Linked DNA regions of Homo sapiens. The protein of the gene in region 2 purifies or fractionates together with the protein of the main gene of each other region. This does not show direct contact. Each region holds a gene or a part of one and is shown on either strand. Other genes may lie near its edges.

The links. The genes of interacting proteins can lie anywhere in the genome.
Region 1: the proteins of DOCK4 (region 2) and ELMO2 purify together in Homo sapiens (affinity purification with mass spectrometry; 2 studies listed by BioGRID and IntAct, with this or other methods). This does not show direct contact.

The regions. Positions count from the first base shown.
Region 1 is NC_000020.11:46,382,609-46,389,634, reverse strand, and holds part of ELMO2 (engulfment and cell motility protein 2), read left to right. Parts: intron 1-414; coding exon 415-596; intron 597-1,844; exon of another isoform or gene 1,845-1,935; intron 1,936-2,197; coding exon 2,198-2,297; intron 2,298-3,359; coding exon 3,360-3,511; intron 3,512-6,140; coding exon 6,141-6,219; intron 6,220-7,026. UniProt on the Homo sapiens protein: Involved in cytoskeletal rearrangements required for phagocytosis of apoptotic cells and cell motility. Acts in association with DOCK1 and CRK. Was initially proposed to be required in complex with DOCK1 to activate Rac Rho small GTPases.
Region 2 is NC_000007.14:111,727,386-111,734,411, forward strand, and holds part of DOCK4 (dedicator of cytokinesis protein 4), read right to left. Parts: intron 4,903-7,026; coding exon 4,841-4,902; intron 1,336-4,840; coding exon 889-1,335; 3' UTR 1-888. UniProt on the Homo sapiens protein: Functions as a guanine nucleotide exchange factor (GEF) that promotes the exchange of GDP to GTP, converting inactive GDP-bound small GTPases into their active GTP-bound form. Involved in regulation of adherens junction between cells.

The DNA.
Region 1 (7,026 bases), on a different chromosome or scaffold from region 2:
TTCAAGCAATCCTGCCTTGGCCTTTCAAAGCCTTGGGATTACATGCATGAGCCACGCACCCAGCAAGACAGCTTAAATAGAAAACCTTCCTCTATTAAACCAGTATCTGTTTCTCTGTGACTTACCATCGTTAGTGGGCCTCCCAGATGCCTCCAGTATTCCCTTGGTAGGAATTTTTTAAATCCATAGGCCAAAGCGGTACAGAAAAGATGCAGATAACTACAGATTGGTTTTGGCATACTAATAACTCCCTGATTGATTCCACAAACATTTATTTAGCAACTCCTAAGCTGTGTGAAAAAACTAGTTCTGCCTCAGGTTTGGATGTCCACAGAAGGGCCTCTGTGAGCTATCCACAGAGTAGTAACCTGCTCCAAGGAGCAGATGGCACATATCTTGTCCCTGGCCTCCTAGTCCCGGGCTGCACGCCAGCTGATGGAGAGGACCCAGTCATCCAACATGGAGACCCGGCTGGATGCCATGAAGGAGCTGGCCAAGCTCTCTGCCGACGTGACTTTCGCTACTGAGTTCATCAACATGGATGGCATCATTGTGCTGACAAGGCTCGTGGAAAGTGGAACCAAGCTCTTGTCCCAGTGAGTATGACTAAGGTCTCGTTCCAAGGACTTCGACGATTTACTACATCCCACAGGGCATCCTAGTCTCATTTCCCTTGAGTCAAATAAGGAGTTTATTGAATACCACCTGTGTGCAGAGCAGTGTGCCAAGCACTAGAGTCCATACCAAGATATATAATTCCATATTGTGATTCTAAATCGTGTAGTCTATTTGGGCTCTCACAAATTAAATAACAGTACAAAACAGTACTGTGCCAAGTGAGCAGTGAAAATAGGGGCTAGAGAAGTCAGGAGGAGAGCAGTCACGTCGTGACAGACCTGTTAATTGCTGGAAATGTTTGGTTTGATGAGGGTTAGTGAGCAGATGGTCCAGTATCTCCCAGGTGTCTGTTTGTAATCATCCCCTGCTCCTCCCTCTTCAGTCACCTCCCAGCCCATACACACACACACACACACACACACACGCCTTCCTTTGTGTTTACCACAGGTGTCAACCTACCCATTCACCATCTCCCTGCCACACTTTTGCACAGGGAGGAGGAGACCAGAACTTTGTGATACCCACAAGCATCTTCATCATACCCCAGAGTTCACATGCATGCGGTGGGCAGCTGTGCCTTGTGAGCAGCAGTCAGTAAACAGGTGCTTGGAGCCTAACCTGCCAAAGAGGGAGTCAGAAATCTTCTCAGCCCATAGATCAACTATTGAAATTGTTAGCCAAATCGAGTAACTAATCATAGATATTTGTTTTACATATTGGATCTTCCAGCTGTATTGAAGTCCTGAAGCCTTCAGCTGCCATCAGCACTGACATAGTTCTACAGTCTCCCAAGGGTACAGGGTTAGACTGGCCTTAGTTTCACTCTCTTCAGCCTGAGGATAATAATAGCTACCTTGCAGTATTATTGTGAGAAGTATTGTTAATGAGAATGTGTCTGAACATGCTTTGTAAATAGGAATATCATCTGTTAATTCTAGAGCACTGTACAGATGTATAAAGGATTAAATGTATAAGGAGAAGAGAAAAAAGAGAAAACATTTTAATCCTTATTCTCTACCAGCACTAGAATAAGAGCTTTGCATACATCATCATCTTGTCGTCTCCACAACCCTGTGAGGTTAACGCTGTGAGACTAACTTGATTTTACAGAGGAAGAAATTGAATTTTGAAAAGATAAAATTTGCTTGGTTAGTAAGGTGGACAGGAACTGAACCCATCTCTTGCACTCTACTGCCTCTTGGCCCAAAGGTTAACATGGCACTTACACTTCCTTAGGTTCTCCCAACAGGTGTTGGAGTTTGACAAAGGTCCAATGTCTTCTTTGGTCTTGGGAAATAGATAAGTGATTCTGTGTCCCTGGGATGAAGCATATGGAGAAGGAAGATCTAATTACCCAGCAACATTTTTTTTTTTTTTTTTTTTTGCAGCGATAGATACCTGGGCTGAATCTGCTCTACACTGGCTAGGTGTGCACACAGGCACTTACAGTTACAGTTGCATCGACTGATTTCCCATGGGGTGTTCACATTAAAATTCATCTTTTTTGTGGCTGCCCTCACACCTGTGTTTCCCGATCTGAATCTTTGTCTATTTTGTGTGTGTGTTGCACGTGTCTCAGCTACAGTGAGATGCTGGCATTCACCCTGACTGCCTTCCTAGAGCTCATGGACCATGGCATTGTCTCCTGGGACATGGTTTCAATCACCTTTATTAAGCAGGTGAGGCCTCCAACATTCTGTCTTTCTCTCCTCCCTCAGCTGCCAGTTCACAAGGCTTAAGGGGAGATACAGGCAATATCGCCATTCTGGTGAGATCAGCTTTATATTCCCTGGGGCCAGATTTTTCATCCTCAAGCTCTAGTCTTCTGTGGCTTCTGAAAGATTTGCATTTTGTTATATTCTCAGGGCCTGCACTGAGATGGAACTGGACCGTCAGAACTAAATATGATCAAAGTAGAATTAGATTGTCAGTGAGACTGGGGATAAAGCCAGCCAGTCAACCAGTACTAGCCCTGAGTCTTTTGACCGACTTCCTGAGCTCTCTCTTCTTTTTGTATATATATAAAAAAAATTTGCATTTCATTTGTAAATTTGCCTTCTATTTACAAATCTGCAAGGTAGCCTGTTTGGATTGTCAGACTAAGTTCAGTGGGTAGGAGAGGGTACTTCTGGTTTTACCCTCCTTTCTTTTACACAAAGGAGCAGTGTCAATTCAGAATACTGAACTAAAACCAATGAATAATATTGTATCTGCTGCCCTAGAACTTCAGCTATCATTGGCTTAGGACATTGGGACTCCCCGACACTGGACACAAGTGAAATGACCATGTGTCAAGGATATTATAATGGGGACTGAGAAGAAGGATTAGAGTAAAAGGCTTCAAGGTCCTTTCTACCTCTCAAAGTCTAAGTGTGTTTAGGGGGAGTGTGTGTCAGGGGAGGTACATGGAGATAAAATGAGATCCCAGTATCAGTAAAATCCTCTGCTTTTTTATACCCCACTTTCTCAAACTGGAACCCTTATTTTGATAAAAAGAATTAAGCTTTTAGATTTTGAGGAAACACAATTAAGTGGATACTATAATCTGAGATTAAGGTATCCATGCCAAGGGAATCCCTGGCACATTGGCCAGGGTAGCCGTAAACCAGATACCACTATCCACCTAGCAACAGCTGCCCAAATGTGAAGCAGAGAGAGCTTCAAGGGCTAGCATCAGATGCTAAGCTTCTATCTTTCTTGGGCCCTGAGCTTCTCAATTGATGTGCCATCTCTGGGTCTAGATTGCAGGGTATGTGAGCCAGCCCATGGTGGACGTGTCAATCCTTCAGAGGTCCCTGGCCATCCTGGAGAGCATGGTCTTGAACAGCCAGAGTCTGTACCAGAAGATAGCCGAGGAAATCACCGTGGGACAGCTCATCTCACACCTCCAGGTGTGAGTAAAAAACCCTACACCTCCCTCCCTTCACTTGTCTGTCCTCTTTTCTCCTCTTATTTTAAGTCTTCCAATCCTACTCTCCTTTGCTTATATTCCAAGCTGTTGGTTGGCTTCTTCATTCATCACCTCTTCCACACTCCTGCCAGAATTTCTCCCATCATTCAGACTTGATCATGTCATGCTCCTGCCCAAAATCCTCTGTAACTCTCTCTGCCCCTTAGGTTAAAATGAAGATTTTCCCAGTCTTCCCATACCAGGGTGGTACCAGGCAAAATTAGATGCTTTCTCACATGGGCCCAGTAGTCTCTGTACCTATGATAATTATATAAAATACTGGATTTTTATTATCTGTTGCCCATTTTGAACATAGAGCCCCCTTGAAACAGAGACCAATCATTGTTGTATCCCCTGTTTTGATTTAAGTAGAGGCTCAATTAGTGCTTGTTGAATGAATGCTCACTGAACCGACGATGCACTGTGGGTGATTTGTAAGAAATATCACACAGGTGTGAGTTTGGAATATCAGTTCAAATCCAGGCTCTTCTGCATACTAGGTCTCTGCCATCAGCAAGTAACCTAGTCTCTTCTGGCCTCAGTTTCTTCATCTCTAGAATAGGTTAATCACCTTCACCTCTCACACTGTGAGGATCAAAGGAGATTTTAAAAAGGTCCAGCATAGAGGCCAACCTGGGTTAGGTATTCAGTAAATTCAGGGGCTTTTTTCCTTTGTTTGTTTGTTAAGACTCTTATCACATCCTAAAACATTTTACCAGATACTGAGACCATATGACAAATGAACCCATTGGAGCAATGTTTCTCCCGTCTCCGCTGTTTTTACCTCACTTCCAACCAACCTACACCATGTAAGGAAGCTGGACTTTGCAAAACAGTGGTGGCACTCCTGTTGATTCTCTTCTGACTGTTGTTCACTTCTGTTTTTTAGACATTGTCAGAATGTTGCCAGAATCCCCCACCAGTTCGAGGGGAAGTCATAGCTCCCAGATTTGGGAGTTTATAGTGGCCCTGTCTTCACTCAGCTATGCTCCCAACTTGTTTTTCCCCACTAATCCAAGTAAAAAGAAAGCACAATTATTTCTTTGCAACTCTGATTTCTCCTTGTCACTTTTAAGGAATTTTCAGCCTCAGCTTTCTTTGCTTTTCTTTTTTGAGACAGGGTCTCACTCTGCCGTCCAAGCTGGAGCGCAGTGGCATGATCATAACTCACTGCAGGCTCAAGCGATCCTCCCCATCTCAGCCTCCCGAGTAGCTGGAATCACAGGCACACTCCACAACACCTGGCTAGTTTTTTTTTTTTTTTTATTTTTGTAGAGACAGGGTCTCGCTGTGTTGTCCAGGCTGGTCTCAAACTGTTGGGCTCAAGCAGTCCTCCCACCCCAGCCTCCTGAGTAGCTGGGACTACAGGTGTGAGTCACCATGCCTGGTCTAGCCTCAGCTTTCATACCCAGCGAGCCACCAAGGTTGATTAAGGTGAGAGGGACATTATAAACTCCAGATAGAGAATTCTGATTTTCCTGTAACCTCACATCTACTTCTCTGGTTTTTTTTTTTGTCTCTGAATTCAGAGTGGCCCCAGTTGCCTCCCTAGGGATGATAGGGGAACATGGCATTTCATAGGAGCCAATACTTTCAGCCCACAGCTGTCACCAGAACTTATATGCTTTCCTTTTTGGGCTGAGGGATACTTAGTGCCCTCTGTTAGACTCCCTGGGTACCATGTGACTAACCAGGAAGCCCATCAGACCCTCTGGAAAGACAGCCACAGAATGCACCCAAGACATGGCAGGTGGAGATGTCAAGTACCAGGATTGTAAGATTCCAGAGAATGATTGTAGTTATTTTGTTTGTTCATAATAAAATAAGTTTATAGTCAAAGACTTTAAAAATACAGAAAAACGCAAAATTATTTGCCCATTATCTCACCTCCAGACATACCCACTGTTAAACATTAAATTGAATGTCCCTTCAGTATTTTTATGCATATTTTTAACAAAATCGGGATCTCATTATATATACTATGTGTACCTTGATTTTTTTTAACTGAATAATACACCTTGAACATTTCTCCATGTCAAAGATTTTTCTAAAAGGGTAGTTCTAAGTCTTTTTTGCAACCTAGACACCTTTGAAAATCTGGTAACAAGTATATACTCTCACCAGTTTGGAAAAAATACCACTTAGTTGGCAAACTACATAGAATAATTTCTGTATCATTCCTGGGGTTCACAAATACTCTAAGCTCATCCCTGAATCCCAGGTTAAGAATCTTTACCCTAAAACATGACTTTTAATAACTACTTAAGATTCTCATATGTATAAATGTTGGCTAATGTGACCATTTGGATTACTTTCCATTCTTTTTTAAGTAGTACTTTAATGAAACGCCTTGTCAGTAAATCTTGCATAGCTCTCTGATTACTGTCTTAGGATAAATTCCTATTAGTGAAATTGCTGGGTCAAGAGCATGCCCACTTTGAATGCTTTTGAGACTGAGCTCCAGATCATTATTTGCTTATAATCTGTGAGTGATTGTTTTAAACCATTTCTAAGCATCATCTTGCTGTTCAGTCTTCTAATCTCCCTCTCTCTTCTTTCTCCATTGACACAGCTCCAACCAGGAGATTCAGACCTACGCCATTGCACTGATTAATGCACTTTTTCTGAAGGCTCCTGAGGACAAACGACAGGTCTGTGGCTGCCTTTTCACATTTTTCATCTGGGCTCTTCTGAGATAATTCTCACCCCATGCACTCTTTGCTATGCAGAGAGCACAAATCCAGCAATTTTCCCAAGAGTTCTTCCTCTTAGCTGTCTGGTCTGGAGCCCAGGAGGGTGGCTTTGCTAAGGAAGACCCAGGGAAGACCTATGAGGGGAAACCAGCTGGGTCTTAGATGAGAGCAGGGCCCTTCAAACTTTTTCCTCTAAAGGGCCAGAGAATAAATATGTTTGACTTTATGGGCCATATGGTCTATGTGATAGCTACTCAACCTTGCCATTGTAGCCAAAAGCAGCCTCGGCCAGTAGGTAAATGAATGGGTATGGCTGTCTTCCAATAAAATCTTATTTACAAAAACAGGCAACAGGCCTAATATGGCCATAGTTTGCCAACTCCTGGGTTACAGAATCAAGAATAAGGAAGAGGAGACCCTGTGGCTACCCTGAGTCCAAGGAGTCCAATATGAATGGGATTTCACACTAAATCTTAGGTTTAAAGGTTCTCTGATGGAGATTCTAAACATCTTCCTTCCCCTGTTCATTAACTGTGACATTATGCAGATAGCTCTGCCTCTGTGAACCTTAGTTTCCTCACCTGTCACATGGGAGCAACAACATCTGCCTTGTTTACCTCACAAGGATGTCTGAGGAAAAACAAGATCCCTGTTTCACAAATAAGGAAACTAAGAATCAGCTGGGTGGTGGAACAAACACTGACCTAAGAGCCGAGGGGCCTGGGACTAAGTATTCTCCCTGCTGCTGGCTGGACAAGTGTTTGT
Region 2 (7,026 bases):
ATTTAATACTGTCTGTATTGATTCCTGAATTCTTGCTAATGGGGCACAGTCATTTGTGCCTCATTAATACTTCAGCATTTGCTCTTGTTCAATGACAAATTTTATATAGGAAACTATCAAGAAAGGAAGCGCAAAATTCAAGTAAACATTTCTTCTGGAGCCTCTTGCTTAATCTAGCTGATTGGAACTCTGAAGCAAATTGCACCTTGAAAAGAAATACAGTAGATACCACGGTGTCAGGGTAGTAAGGGATTTAGCTACCAATTCACAAAATAGAATTTTACGAATGTAGACAGCAGTCAAACAGCAAAAGCAACCTTAAAGAAGTATTTTGTTTCAAGAACAAAACAATTTCCAGTCCCAAGCTTTGCAACCCCTTAAGTATACTGTCTTGCTCGCCTGCTTGAACTTTAATTCTGATGATCTGCACTGATAAACCTTGCCTTATTTACAGAAGTCTTCTAAAATAAGGACCACTGTGTTAGGATGTGCACTGACTTAATAAGCTTTCTCCAAGTATCAAGTATTCAGTAAAAACGATACAACATTGTCACACATTGTATCGTTTGACAATATCGTATTGGTTTTAAGATTAAACTATATAAAAAAAAGTGAACATAAAAAGGTACAAAAGGAGTCTTTATCACTATTTACCACTTCCAAATGAGAAACGTTTTAATGAAATTCAGCCATACTTCATTTAACATCTGGCGTTTTAGATCAGCAACTTTTAATATTGTGCAACATGATATTTAATAAGCAAGTTTTAATTCCATTCATCGAAGGAGCTGAGTAAGTTATTAAAGTGCCTACACTAAATGTCTTCTCATCATACTTCTTATTTTGTAAACGGGCAAAGAATGCATCGCAGGTACATAGAAAAGTGACTTATAACTGAGAGACCTTGCGGGGCAGGGGCCTGGGCCGCGGGCCGGGGTCAGTCCTCCGGGCCCCATTCTCCAGGTGGCTGGATCGCGCTGCCAGAGGCTTGGGGGGCAGCGCGGGCGGCTCCGACGTGACGGGGATGGAGAGGCTGTGAGGTAGCGGGACGGGGCGCCGCAGAGTCCGCTCGTAGACGCTGTACGGGGGCGGAGTCTTGCTCTCCTTGCGCACTGGCTCCTCCCCGCCGTAGCTCGGCACGGGCACCGGCACTGGCACCGGCAGGGGGGCCGACTGTTCATTCACCTGATTTTCAAAGCCTGAGGTTTCCGACGTGCTGCACCGGCTGAGAGAAGAAATCCCACTGCTGTAGCTGCCCGACAAGACAGGGGAGTTGGAGATGAGTCCTGGCGAGTGGTACTCCACTGGAGAGGGGGTGAAAGACTGCACAGAGCCCTGCTCCGGGGAGAAGGAAACGAGAGGGAGACACAGCATTGAGTCGTGAACGCAGATGCGCTGAAATGTACGCCCCGACGCGGAGGCCCCGGCCCCCAGCACCCCCAAAGCCGGCTGCAGCAGGAGATGCAGCCTTTAAGGAGGTGATTAAGGTAAAAGGCCATTATGGTGGATCCTAATCCAAGCTGACTGGTGTCCTTATAAGAGACATTTGGACACACAGGGAGACGTCAGGAATGCGACACACACAGACCTTGCAGGAAGGGCGGTCTGCAAGCCCAGGAGGGAGGCCTCGGGGAAACCAAGGCTGCCACGCATTGATCCTGGACTTCTACCTGCCAGAATTGAGAAAATACATTCCCAGTGTCTAAGCCACCCAGTTTGTGGTATTTTGTGAGGGAAGCCCGAGCAGACGAATACACTCACACTCAAATTTGAGTGTTGTCCTTTGTAGCACTGAAAATGCACACCAGACGTTTATCTGCGAGGGCCACCAGTCCTCGAGTTCAGTTCACCGCCCAGTTTACTCCTTATCATTTTCAGATAGAGGAGAAAGGAGCTGGGCATGGTGGCTCACGCCTGTAATCCCAATACTTTAGAAGGCCGATGCAGGGATCACTTGAGGCCAGGAGCTTGAGACCAGCCTGGGCAACATGGCAAAACCCCATTTCTACTAAAAATCCAAAGGGTTAGCTGGGCGTGGTGGCTCATGCCTGTAATCCCAGTTCCTCTGGGAGGATCACCTGAACCTTGGGAGGTTGAGACTGCAGTGAGCCGTGGAGCCACCAGTGCACTCCAGCCTGGGCAACACAATGAGACCCTGTCTCAAAAAATAAATAAAGGTATCCACCAAGATAATCTGGAGGCACACATTAGTCCTATAGTTTGGAAGAGAGGGAACTGGCCAAAAACCCCAAAAACCTAAAAACGCCATAAAACCTTTGGGGGCGCTATTCACTTTCCCAGCTCAGCAGGGCATGCTGCAGGCCAGGAGCCAGGGCCGCTGAGCACACTCAGCTCAGAAGACCCAGAGAGCTCAGGAGGAGGAGCAGAGGCACCCGAGGTTCTGCACCTGATTTCTCCAGCCATCACTCCAGACTCCAGACTCCTGAGCTGAACTGGCGAACTGGCAGCCCTCGGGGCTGTAGCCTGTGATGTGAGCTGTTTCCTCAGCAGTTTTTTAAAAACCTAATTTAGTTAATTTTTAACATTTCAAATTTCACATGAAACTCCAGAATTCTGGCAGTTCATAAAGAACTAGGAGTTCTGGCCACAATGGCACACATTCTCTTAATAGAGATAATCTTTAAAAGCTGAGAAGGGCTGTCCCTTTTCACTTTGCCAGTCCCCACTATGCCACGTGGGGACTACACCCGGCCTCCTTCATTTGTGTCAGCTGTCTGGCCCCATTTGGCATCTGAGTTTGTTACTTTCCCAACTAGTATCCCAAGGAAAACGAGTCCTAAGATAGATGCTCTGTGAAAAGAGGGTTCCGCTGGGAAATGCTGCACACTGTATACTCCTTGTGTATATTCAAAACATATTCGCATTTTCAAGGCTTAGAATAAAGGAATACAAATAATTTTGTTCAGTCCAGTGTTTTCCAAACTTACTTGACTATAGACCTTTTCTCCCCCGCTTATTACATAATGTCCTGGAAAACTAGTGTTCTATGGTATACACTTTGAGAAATGCTATCTTCTTAAGCTAACTTGACTTTGGTTTCTCTTTGTAAACAAAATAACGCTGGTAGATACACATCCTGTCATTTAGTAGGAGCCTAACATTAAGGCCAATTAAGAGTTCCCAATTCACTGCTACCTCTGTCAAAAGTTAGACCTGAAATTCAAAATATGGCAGGTCAGCTCAGTCTTCGCTGTAGGGTTAGACCCACAGTTTGATGGCTGGCTGGGGTAAAAAAAAAACCCAAAACCCCACTAAACTCTTATCAGTTAAGGCAGCACACTGCAAGGCTAGTAACATGGTAGCAGTGTGCCCCCTAATGTAACCCAGGAGGTATAACACAAATGTTCGATCTATGTTCTCTTCCTTCAAACCCTACATATAAAGACATGGCTTCGAACTGCATATGGCCAGTAAAAATGTACACAGGTCTGCTGAGAGACAGTATATACCAGCTTGCTAAGACTATTTTATAGCTATTCAAACATTTTTAGCTCTTGGGTTCTTTTTAATGTTTAAGAATTAATCTCTTAAGACTTATTTTCTTACTACCCAACAAAATTTAAGTTGAAAAATACAGATGATAATTCCATAGCAACGTGTGGGAGCTCTGTGTGAGTAAGGGCAAATGTAAAAGTGCGGAAAAGCCATGTTGCTTTCCTTTCTATCACATCGAGGTGACAGGCTATGACTTCCAGAGTGAATGCTGTCACAGGTACTTCATAATAACAGCTGCATTACAGAATGAGAACAAAACGAGCAAATCACTTGCACTTACCCGCGAATTTCTACGTCAGAAATTCTGGCAATGCAAGGGAATCACACTTCTTTCAATTTTCTCCATTTTGCGGGGGGAGGCGGGTTGTTTTCCCGTTTCTCAATTTCTATCAGCAACTATCGTTAGCACCACAGATGCACTGGATCGCAACCTGCCCCTATGTGTTTGTAGAGGCTAATTTGTCTTTTGCACATTAGCTAGAACTAGCTCATCACACAAAGGACATGGAGCGTGTAAATCCTAAGTCACTCAGGTACAAAATCATTCTTTCGACACACTTCATATTTGCCTCTGGTGCAGCAGTTCTGAACACCAATCTCTCACGTACTGACAATCCTTGAAGCCGGTCTGATTCAATTTGGATAAGACTAAATATTATTCTTTATCTTCATGAGGGATTTTTTATGTTTAAAGATGTTAAATAGCCCATGTCTACAAACCAATTCGAATGTCTGACCTTTACAGCTTTCCAGTTTGTTCCCTAGAAATCTTTTAAATCCATATTACTGCCTTGTTTTTCATGATCAAGTATGTATTTCTAATGTAAATGAGAAACTTGGTATAAAATATTAACAGAGAATGTTAGGTTTGGCTTTGACAAAATGGGTTTGGCTGACGATAAAGGCAAAAAGACACAGAATATTTAGTAGATCTTGATACTGATGTTTCTCAATCTAAGTGTGTGTGTGTGTGTTTGATGTACCTTAAACTAAAAGGCCAGGCTGAAAGTTTCCTAGGAGGTACATTAGGACCACATTCCTTTCCTAATTCAGTATATGCACTGACTTCAGTCTGCAAGTTCTCACTGCTACCATTTGGAGAATGAGGCTAATAATCGAAAAACAAATGGCTGCGTTTGTGCAGGAGGCACCCAGAAGGGAAAGTCCAGTGTTGTTTTTCTCAACCAGCTTCCCCTATCCCTGATTGATAAGTTCTTTGCCTGGTCCCTGCAAATTAAAGCACCTTTTGATATATCTGGGATGAGTCTTAGAGAAAAAGAAAACTGGGCCAGTCTCTAGCCTCAGTCGAAAGAAGGGCCTTTACCTTCAATGGAGATCGCCCGGCAGGCGAGGGGGATACTGATGTCGTGTGTCTTGCTGGTGAAGCTGTCAATGGGGAGAGAGATAACATTTCAATTAAGAAAAACCAGACGATTGACTATCTGCACATGCCCTCTGTGTTACAAACCCAAACAGATGATCCAGTGCATAAGGACCTTCTAAGCAAAGGGGGTGGTGAGGATGGGGGAGAAGCTAAATGATGCCTGTCTAGAATGGGTTCTCACAAAGGGTGGCACTGCCAAGATATGGGAGCATCAGTGAAAAGTTATCATGGCATATATGATGCTTTGACTATTGACAGGTTCCCAAACTGATCCAATGTCCTTTCCGTTTCCCCAAAGTCCAGGTGCTTCTGCACTGCTTGATCTGTCTCATAAGGTGCTTTTAGGTGTGAGATGCTAGGGAGCAGTTCTTGGGGAACAGCTGTTGACTTTGGCGTGAGCACCAATGGGAACACCATGGCCACCCCAGCAGCCTGGAACAGGTCTACGGGAACATATTTAATCAGCTCCCCCCAAACAACCCCAGTACTCCCCAAATAGGTAGAAAACCCTTGGCCATGGCCATACAACAGGTGCATGGTTTTCCATTTCTTCCCCTAATGCTTGTACTCAGGTCTTCCCATTATCCCCTGGTGGTGGGTCTCTATGGATTTCATCATCGTGGCCAAGAAGAGTGAACTGTTTGCTTTTTCTCACTAGATTTTCAAGTCCTACACCTGGAACACAGCATGTGTGATAGCACTGTTCCTGTGTGCATGCTTGTATAGCAAATCCAGCTCTCTAAAGCATAGCCCTGTATGGTAAAGGCTGGCGTGACACAGTCAACAGGGTGAGAGTCAGCCACATTTCTCAATTCCACAGAGACGTTTCGGTGAACTCTGGGTATGTCGCTCTGTGATTAGCTGCTACTCTCCCAGCTGTCACAGTGAGGTTTGCAACTCACAACTACTGAAAGGCTGTAAGAAAGAAAGACAGTTACAGAGCCCCACAACAGTGACCACAGATGATGACATAAGAACAGACCATGAGAGCAATCAGTGCAGAAGGGATGGCAGCCCTGCCAGTTAACTTGGGAGGGGTAAGGTCATCTGTGTGCTCTGGGTCCTAAGGGGTCAGTGAGAGTGCTCCATGATCACACTGGTAGTGTGCAGCCTCTCTCTTGCACTCTTGAATGCTGGGGCATGCTGTCAGCACGTGTCACATTCTAATACCAGCCTTAGTTCTCCTATCCTGTTGATCGTGGGTGCTGATTATGGAAGAAAATCACATCTGTATGGAGAAGCTGATCCTGACGGAGAACTATGTTCCTGCCTTAACGGTGGTAGAAAGTTGATTGTTCCCTAGGACCCTCTTCCTCCTGACTCAGGCAGTTGCTGACACCACCATGGTGGCCCCTGCAACCACAGCATATTTGCATCAATATTATTCCTTAAAAAATGCTTTTCAGGTTCTCAACTTTAGGGACACAACCAGGTTTAAATTGGAGACTGCCTGAATATATGTACATCGTGAATGAGATACAAATAGTTTGGCCGATAAGTTTTAGGCCTCTGTACACATACTGATATACTAATGCAGGTGATCAATAAGCTTAAAGTTATTTCTTGTTTTCTTTGAAGACCTCATATGTCTCTCAAAAATTATTGGTGACTTGACTTTTGGCTTTGACAAGTATAGAGTAAACTAGGTGGCACATAGTTTATTGTGTTTTGTGGCAAGGTCTCACTTTGTTGCCCAGGCTAGAGTGCAGTGGCTCAATCTTGGCTCACTGCAACCTCTGCTTCCTGGGCTCAAGCAATTCTCCCACCTAAGCCTCCCAACTAGCTAGGACTAGAGGTGTGTGCCACCATGCCTGGCTAATTTTTGCATTTTTTTTTGTAGAGATGGGGTTTTGCCATGTTGTACAGGCTTCTCTCAAAACTCCTGGGCTCAAGTGATCTGCCTGCCTTGGCCTCCCAAAGTGCTGGGATTACAGGTGTGAACTACCTTATTTGGCCCAGGCTGAAGTGCAGTGGTGCCATCTTGGTTCACTGCAACCTCTGACTTCTGGGCTCAAGCCATCCTCCCAAGTAGCTGGGACTACAGGTGTGTACCACCACACCTGGCTAATTTTTATATTTTTTGTAGAGACGGGGTTTTGTCATGCTGCCCAGGCTGGTCCCAAACT